Homo sapiens: one gene and its partner. Changing the gene in region 2 together with the main gene of any one other region gives a genetic interaction. Each region holds a gene or a part of one and is shown on either strand. Other genes may lie near its edges.

What was found.
Region 1: changes in TFRC (region 2) and FBXW7 together harm fitness more than expected from each alone (negative genetic interaction), as found in Homo sapiens cells (one large-scale study listed by BioGRID).

Annotation. Positions count from the first base shown.
Region 1 is NC_000004.12:152,320,044-152,323,092, forward strand, and holds the end of FBXW7 (F-box/WD repeat-containing protein 7), read right to left. Parts: coding exon 2,838-3,049; 3' UTR 501-2,837; downstream 1-500. UniProt on the Homo sapiens protein: Substrate recognition component of a SCF (SKP1-CUL1-F-box protein) E3 ubiquitin-protein ligase complex which mediates the ubiquitination and subsequent proteasomal degradation of target proteins.
Region 2 is NC_000003.12:196,064,260-196,069,426, forward strand, and holds part of TFRC (transferrin receptor protein 1), read right to left. Parts: intron 3,872-5,167; coding exon 3,773-3,871; intron 3,399-3,772; coding exon 3,259-3,398; intron 1,342-3,258; coding exon 1,184-1,341; intron 170-1,183; coding exon 50-169; intron 1-49. UniProt on the Homo sapiens protein: Cellular uptake of iron occurs via receptor-mediated endocytosis of ligand-occupied transferrin receptor into specialized endosomes. Endosomal acidification leads to iron release.

The DNA of each region.
Region 1 (3,049 bases), on a different chromosome or scaffold from region 2:
GGGCAGTAACGTGGTTTACTCTAAAGACCCTGCACTTCACGGCCTAGTAGGATTTTTGCCTTGCATTCAACCAGGTAGTTTTTTGTTTTTTTCCTTTACCCTGTCACTTTTCCTTGCTATTTTTGTGTCTGTAATTTGCTGTGGACTAATAAACCAAATAACCAAATGTACAGGAATGGTATCTAAAGCAATGGTTCTGAAACTTTAGTATCCACAACTCACCTGGTGAGCTAGTTTAAATGCAGGTTCTTGGGTCACACTCCCAGGTGTTCTGATTTAGTAGCTTTGGGAGAATGAGGCCCAGGATTTGCCCTATGAGTAAAGAACACATACTTTATGACTATGAGAAAAAGGGGAGTCCATTTTCAGTAGCTTTTATATTTTCATCTACGGCCTGGTTAGTTGAGATTACTGGATGTGTGTATATATATATGTGTGTGTATATATATATATATATATATATATCTCCTGCTATTTGAGATACTAAATATATTTAGAACTAGTTTCAAAAACAACTTTATTTTTTCCCCTTACATCATAAAATTTAGATTTTATAAAATTTAGATTTGTTGAACAAAACGGCTACAGAACAGTCAGAAAGTACCAGAAAAATGGCTTATTTCCCTCTCAAACCTTGCTTTAGTCTGTCAAACTTTCTTAAAGAGCAGCATGTATTTAGTCTTTGGAAATATGGGTTTGAGTTCTGGCATTCCGCTAGTTCTATGATTTGACAAATTGCCTAACCAGTCTCAGCTGCAGATTTTTGCTCGTCTTTAAGATGGGAGATAATAGTGCCTACTTCTCAGGGATAGTGGGAGCTTAAGAGAGAATGAACAGAAAGTATCGAGGGTAAGCACTTAATATGTGGTCAAAATTTCAAAATGAATTTGTTATTTATAAGGCTTCTAGTTGTAATTATCACAAAAGTTTTGTGGATTCTTTGAGGGAACCAGATTTCATATTTATACACCCCAATGCAATCTACAGAGATGAGCACAGTGGAGTGTCCTCCTTCATAGTCTAGGAGAGAAATAAAATTTGCAGTTGCAGCACATTATCCTTACTTTCGCGGTATAAAACAGGCTTGAAGTATTGATTTCTATGTCACACAGCAGGATGCAAAGAAACCAAGATTTTGCTTATTTAAATATTATAGACAAATCCTAAATACTTATAATGAAGGATTATTACTTCAGTGGAAGAAACAGGCATACTAACATGAAAAAACACATTTTATTGCACTTAAGTTATAAGAAAATAAAATTTCTAAGTGAATCAAACCATAGACACAATCCCTTTAAAGGTTGTTTTCCTCCATCATGTCAGGTTGTTACATAACTAAAATTAACCAACTTGAATCTGATTGTTTTAAATCAGACTATAAATAAAACAAACAAAAAAATAAACAGAAGGAGGAAAAAAGATCGCCTAGGATACAGTGTTAAACCACTTTCACAGTTCAGCTTGAGTTGTGGCTCTTGGAGAATGAGGCAAACCATTTGACTGTTTCATTCATTTTGTTTGTTTGCATGTGACGCCTTTACTACAAAAACTGAATAGTTTCTGCTTTGTCAGTTACTCAGAGCAATAAAACTGTAACAGTTGTTTTCCCAAATACTGTAAAACACTAAGACTGACCAGCAACTTTATTTTAATTTTGTGTTTTATATATTTTTAAAATATTTTGTCAGTTTTACGATGTACGTTCATCCATTCACCACAGCCCTCAAAAAGAAAAGTTTCTCCACAGAACAGGCAAGTAATAGCTCTGTTCCAAGGAATGTGTTTTAATTTTTGCCCAGATAAAAGAAAATAAGCTTTGCACACACTCTCAATTCTTTACTTGCAGGCAAACTTCACTCTTTATTATCTGAAACTCTTCCATTCTCAGCCTCTTAGAGGCACAGATGGCTCAAGTTTCAGTGGCAAAAAGTCTTTTTTCCATAACCAAACTAGAGCAAATTTGGAATTCAGTCTGGGACTAAAACGTCACAGCAGAAAAAAAATAAAAAAAAATAATTTGCTTTTTTCTTTCTTTCATTTAGCAGCATAAATAAGTTTGGCCACTGGGAGTACAGTACAGGGTTGGGACAACAATCCCATATTTGAAGACCTACTTCTAGCACCAGCATCAAGAATTAAATCCATCTCAGGACTCACAGAACCCAGGACAACTTGCCACCTTTGAGCAACATATGCATTGAAGAATGTATATGGAAGCAACAGTAAATAGATTAACAGAGGCTAATACTGTGATTGATTGACATTGGCAATGGTTGGCAAAAAAAAAAAAAAAAAAGCTTTTCATGATAACTGTACAAAAACAATTCACAGTAATTTTTTTAAGCTTTTCCACTCCAGAAAAATGACTTTTTGTTGCAGATGCTCTCTAATTAGAAAGTCAACCAGTACTTGTTTTGATATTATTGCAGTTCCTTTCTAGGTGTCTAGCTGTCAGTGGTAAAAGAACAGGCTAGCAGAATCTGTAATGATGTTTCAGCATTAACACTGCCCAATGACCACTGGAGAAGAAAATAAAGAAATAATTGCACCTGGTTTGATTTAGAAAGTCTCATTTTGCAAAGCTGCCCTCAGTCAAAAGTGAAGCCTTTTATGTGATGAGACAGCAGACGCCTCTCTTGTCAGTTATGGTTTGTCATCTCTTCTTCTTTTCCTTCTTAGTCTGTAGGTCTTTTCAATCTGTTGCCCCAAGCCAACATCCTGCACCACTGAGAACAAGGGATTTTTTTCTTTTTCTTTTCTTTTTTTCTTTTTGCAGGGGGAAGGGCAGGGAGTATATCGTCTACACAATTGGACAAATTCATCTTTTCTGCTCTTCACTTCATGTCCACATCAAAGTCCAGCACCAGCAGCTTGGTTTCTTCAGTCCCATTCCGACTCCCAACTGCACACACCAGCTTTGTGTTTGAGGCTCTGATCCGCCACACAACTCCCCCACTCCCCCCACTCTCCAATGTGACTAGGTTTCGAATAAATTCACCCGTTTTCAAGTCCCATAGTTTTACAGTTCCATCATCTGAGCTGGTAA
Region 2 (5,167 bases):
ACTGTATGCAGTGCACCAATATTCAAAAGAATCAAAATTTGTACTCTACCTTTTAAGACCATATCTGAGAACATCTGGGCAAGTTTCAATAGGAGAGCTGTGCCTACACCGGATTTTGCAGCTCCAGGGCCCCATGCATCTCTCTGGGCCCCAACTACAACATAGTGATCTTTAAAAAAGAAAAAAGAGGAAGAAAGAACTTATATAATCAGCTTCTAAACTTTTCTAGAATTAGCACATCAGTAGAAAGGTAAAAGCACAGTATATGTATTAAGGATAAAAGAGCCTTACTTCAAATCTGACTAAAAACTCTGGGAATTAAAAATTCACATGAGAATATTAATTTTACCTTACTAGTAGAGCTACTTTTTTCCTACACTACTAATTAAATTTACTGACTACTTAAGTCCAAGGACTTATTTCTTAGTAAGTGTTGGCTGTTTGATTGCATTTAAAGTTAACTCCAGGGACTGGCAAACTACAGCCCGCATGCCCATTCACTACGCACAGTCTGTGCCTGTTTTCTTGCTCCCACAGAGTTGAACAGCTAAAAGAGAGACTGTATAGCCTGGCAAAAGGTTTATTATCTGCCCCCTTAAGAAATTTGCTTATCACTGGTCTAGTCAATAACTTAGAATAGATTTTCTAGTCATAATGGTCAATTTTTAACAAGAATTTCCTAGGGCCTTATTACCTCCCAATAAAACTGACACATAGGCTGGGCGCGGTGGCTCATGCCTGTAATCCCAGCACTTTGGGAGGCTGAGGGAGGCAGATCACCTGAGGTCAGGAGCTCTGACCTCATGGAGCCTGACCAACATGGAGAAACCCTGTCTCTACTAAAAATACAAAATTAGCCAGGCGTGGTGGCGCATGCCTGTAATCCCAGCTACTGGGGAGGCTGAGGCAGGAGAATGGCTTGAACCTGGGAGGCGGAAATTGCAGTGAGCCGAGATCACACCACTGCACTCCAGCCTGGGCAACAAGAGTGAAACTCTTTCTCAAAAAAAAAAAAAAGAAACTAACACATAAACAATTAACTTTAGGACAGACAAGATTGAGCACTTCATAAAACCAAGCCAAGCCAGCATTCCTACACTCGCTCCTTCTCTAGCCACATCCTTAGGAACAGAAAAGAAAACAAAAAAAAAGCGGGGCGGGGGGGGGGGGGGGCGGTCTTTACCTGGTTCTACAAAGCCTTTAATAACTCCAAAGATGTTAAGAATTTTTATCTCTTTCAGCACATTGCTCACAGTGAGCTTCACATTCTTGCTTTCTGAGGTTACCATCCTACATGTAGAGTCTGTTTTCCAGTCAGAGGGACAGTCTCCTTCCATATTCCTAGAATCAGAAAGCAGGCGTAAGTTCTGAGTTATTGTTCCTTGCCCAGGGTTTACTCCTGTCCAGTGAAGTTACAGATTAAGAGGACATATAAACAAAACTTACTCTCAGCCCGGCGAAGTGGCTCACCCCTGTAATCCCAGCACTTTGGGAGGCTGAGGCAGGTGGATCACAAGGTCAGGAGTTCAAGACCAGCCTGACCGACATGGTGAAACCCCGACTCTACTAAAAATACAAAAATTAACTGGGCATGGTGGCATGCGCCTGTAATCCCAGCTACTAAGGAGGATGAGGAGGAGAATCGCTTGAACCTGGGAGGCGGAGGCTGCAGTGAGCCGAGATCACGCCACTGCACTCCAGCCTGGGCAACAGAGCACAAGTCCTGTCTCAAAAAAAAACAAAACAAAACAAAACAAAATAAAAACAAAAAAAAACTTACTCTCTAGTGGTGAACCATTTGCGTCTTACTTTGATCTGCAGGCAGCCAATTGGAAACCATTAATTAAGCAATATTTTAAAACACTTCTCTAACTATGCGCCTTTCTGCCAGACATACTTACGTAGTTTATATTTGGAATACATACCAAGATGGACTCAAAATGAAGTTCTTCTAATATATAAAAGAATATTAATACACTTTTATGTTTCCCAACTGTCACCACTAACAAGGATAGTACACATTCTTAGCTCAGTTATAAAAAATATTCCTCAGCTGGGTGCGGTGGCTCACGCCTGTAATCCCAGCACTTTGGAAGGCCGAGGCAGAATTCCTTGAACCCAGGAGGTGGAGGTTGCAGTGAGCCAGGATCATGCCACTGCACTCCTGCCTGGGCAACAGAGTGAGACTGTCAAAATAAAAAAAAAATCTTGTGCTTCCCCTATCTAATTCCTCTGTGTTACCCAAATAATAGCTGCTCCTAAGGGGGCTTACTTACATAAATATAGGTTGAAACATTATTACTCCCCTACTACATAAGGATAAGATGGGACGCTGGCTTCACAGGTTGGTTACGATTTGTAGGTGGTAGGTAGAATGAGTCAAAAAAATCACCTATGCTAAATGCCTCTTAGCGTTATCAATAGTCATGGTATGTTACACACTCCCCTATGCTAAAGGCCTCTCAGCATGATCAACAGTCATGGTATTTCATATACTCCTTATATACAGATGTTCTTCATTTGAGACTATCAAGTAGAATATATTTTCACTATCCAATTATGTTAAAGAAACAGGATCAGAGAACCTATGTCATACAGGAGATAAATGCTTTCATAAAGGCCTGAAACTAGATCTCCATCCTGTAATAACAGGAAATGATAAATATGTCCACATCCAAATCAAAATTAATGCTACGTACTCTAATGGAACTGGGCTCTGTTTTTAAAGAGAGACACTAACGTTACAGGGAGGATATCCAGAGGAGCGAGCCACAACCATAAATGGTTTCTCTGGAAACCATCATAAGAAGCAAGGCTTCTCAATCTATAGACAAGGTAACTGGAATCATACCGTATTGCTTAGAAGAAAAATCCAGACAAATGGATGTTTCGGGGAATAGGATTTTATCCCAATATGAATTCTAACAGATTCTCTCTACTAACTGAATGGGCTGCTATAGGCATCGTGCTTCAGCACAGAAGTACTTGAGCAGAAGCTATGCCAGGAATCTTGCACAAGGAATTCACTGGGTTTATAAGTCTCCTTATTCTCCTGTGTTTATAAGTCCAAAGTCCATTATTAAGATCTCTTTATAGAGAAAAATTCATTTATATCTGTACCAAGGTAACAGCTAACCATCCTCCAAATTCCCAAATGTGGAAAATTATCATCATGTTTAACATTTTAATCAACATATTACCGTTCTTCCCTAATCATAAAACCTCACTATGCAAGACCGCTTTCAAATAAAAACTTACCCAAACAGCTTTTCTGCAGCAGCTCTGGAGATTGTCTGGACAGGTATATTAGGCAATCCTGATGACCGAGATGGTGGAAACTGAGTGTGATTGAAGGAAGGGAATCCAGGTGTGTAAGGGTCACCTGTCCCCAGATGAGCCTAGGAAAACAAAAGAGCAATTCACTCCATCACATACTTCCTCAAAACTTCTCTGTAAGATTCAGGTTTGGTATAAGGCTGCAGCCCAACCTTAGTTTACCAACTTGAAGCCTCAAAAATCTGAGTGGCTCTACAATGTGACTCCTGTTTTCATGGCATATGGAAATTCTCAAATTCAAGGCACTATTGACAAAGTACTTTTAGCAACAAATAATAAAGCCTCAAAGTCAATGTAATCTATCTTCTTGCTTACTGCTAACGCCCTCCCAGAAAAAAGAGCAGTTAAGGAAGACACAGTGCTATTTCTGCTAATACAGGAATCCAAGAACAACTCAAGGAACTCAAAACGGTGATTTACTCAAGAAATAACTCACATGTCCAAAGAATGAAAGTTCTGCGTTAACAATGGGAAATTTAGTCTGGTCCATGTATATCAACACACCAATTGCATTTAAGCTTTCAGCATTTGCAACCTAAAAGAAAACATATAAAGCTCAGAAAATGAAGATCTGATCATACGAAATGAGAATACATCCTGGACATTATGCTAAAGGCCAAATGGTTACAGAGGACTAAACTTATAATACTTCCAAATATTTCAAATTGTTTATCTGGTAATTTATTAATTGCTTCCTGAAAAATTAACTCACTTGTTTGCAAAATAAGAGTAACGGGCCAGGAGTGGTGGCTCACGCCTGTAATCCCAACACCTTGCAAGGCTGAGGCAGGGGGATCACAAGCTCAGGAGTTCGAGACCAGCCTGGCCAACATGGTGAAACCCTGTCTCTACTAAAAATACAAAAATTAACTGGGCGCAGTGGCTGGCGCCTGTATTCCCAGCTATTTGGGAAGCTGAGGCAGGAGAATCGCTTGAAACCATAAGGCAGAGGTTGCAGTGAGCCAAAATTGCGCCACTGCACTCCAGCCTGGACAAAAGAGCAAAACTCCCTCTCAAAAAAAAAAAAAAAAAAAAAAAAAGAATAACAAAGGCCAGGAGTGGTGGCTCACACCTGTAATCCCAGCAATCTGGGAGGCCAAGGCAGGTGGATCACCTGACGTCAGGAGTTCAAGACCAGCCAGGCCAACGTCGTGAAACCCTGTCTCTACTAAAAATGCAAAAATTAGCCAGGCATGGTGGTGGTGGGCACCTGTAATCCCAGCTACTCAGAAGGCTGAGGCAGGAGCATCACTTGAACCTGGGAGGCGGAGGTTGCAGTGAGCTGAGATCACGCCACTGCACTCCAGCCAGGGTGACAAGAGACTCCGTCTCAAAAAAAAAAAAAAAAAAGAAAAGAAAAATAACAAAAACCCATCTAAGACAACCACTTTTTTGAGTCTCACTGTCACTCAGGCTGGAGTGGCACGAGTCACATCTCACAACCTCCAGGGCTCAAGCAGTCCTCCCACCTCAGCCTCCTAAAGTGTTGGGATTACAGGTGTGAGCCCTGCCACTTTTTTTAAAAATGCAGAAATCACCACTGTCTTTTGATATGTTCCACTCTAGTTCCTTGTGTATGTTTGGCTATTAATTTTCCTTTTTATAAAACATGCTTTTAGCTGAATTCTGTATATGCGTAAAACTGAGTTATACAGAGAAATAGCTTTCACTTAAGCACTTCTGATTAGGTAAGTGGAACTTACTTCATTTGTTGAGCATTTTAATAAATTATATTATCTGGTATGAGAGTTTAAGATTGCTGATTTTCAGAATGTAAGAATATTAACAAGAAATATCACTTACCTGAAGAGTAAGATACCAAAAGTACTGT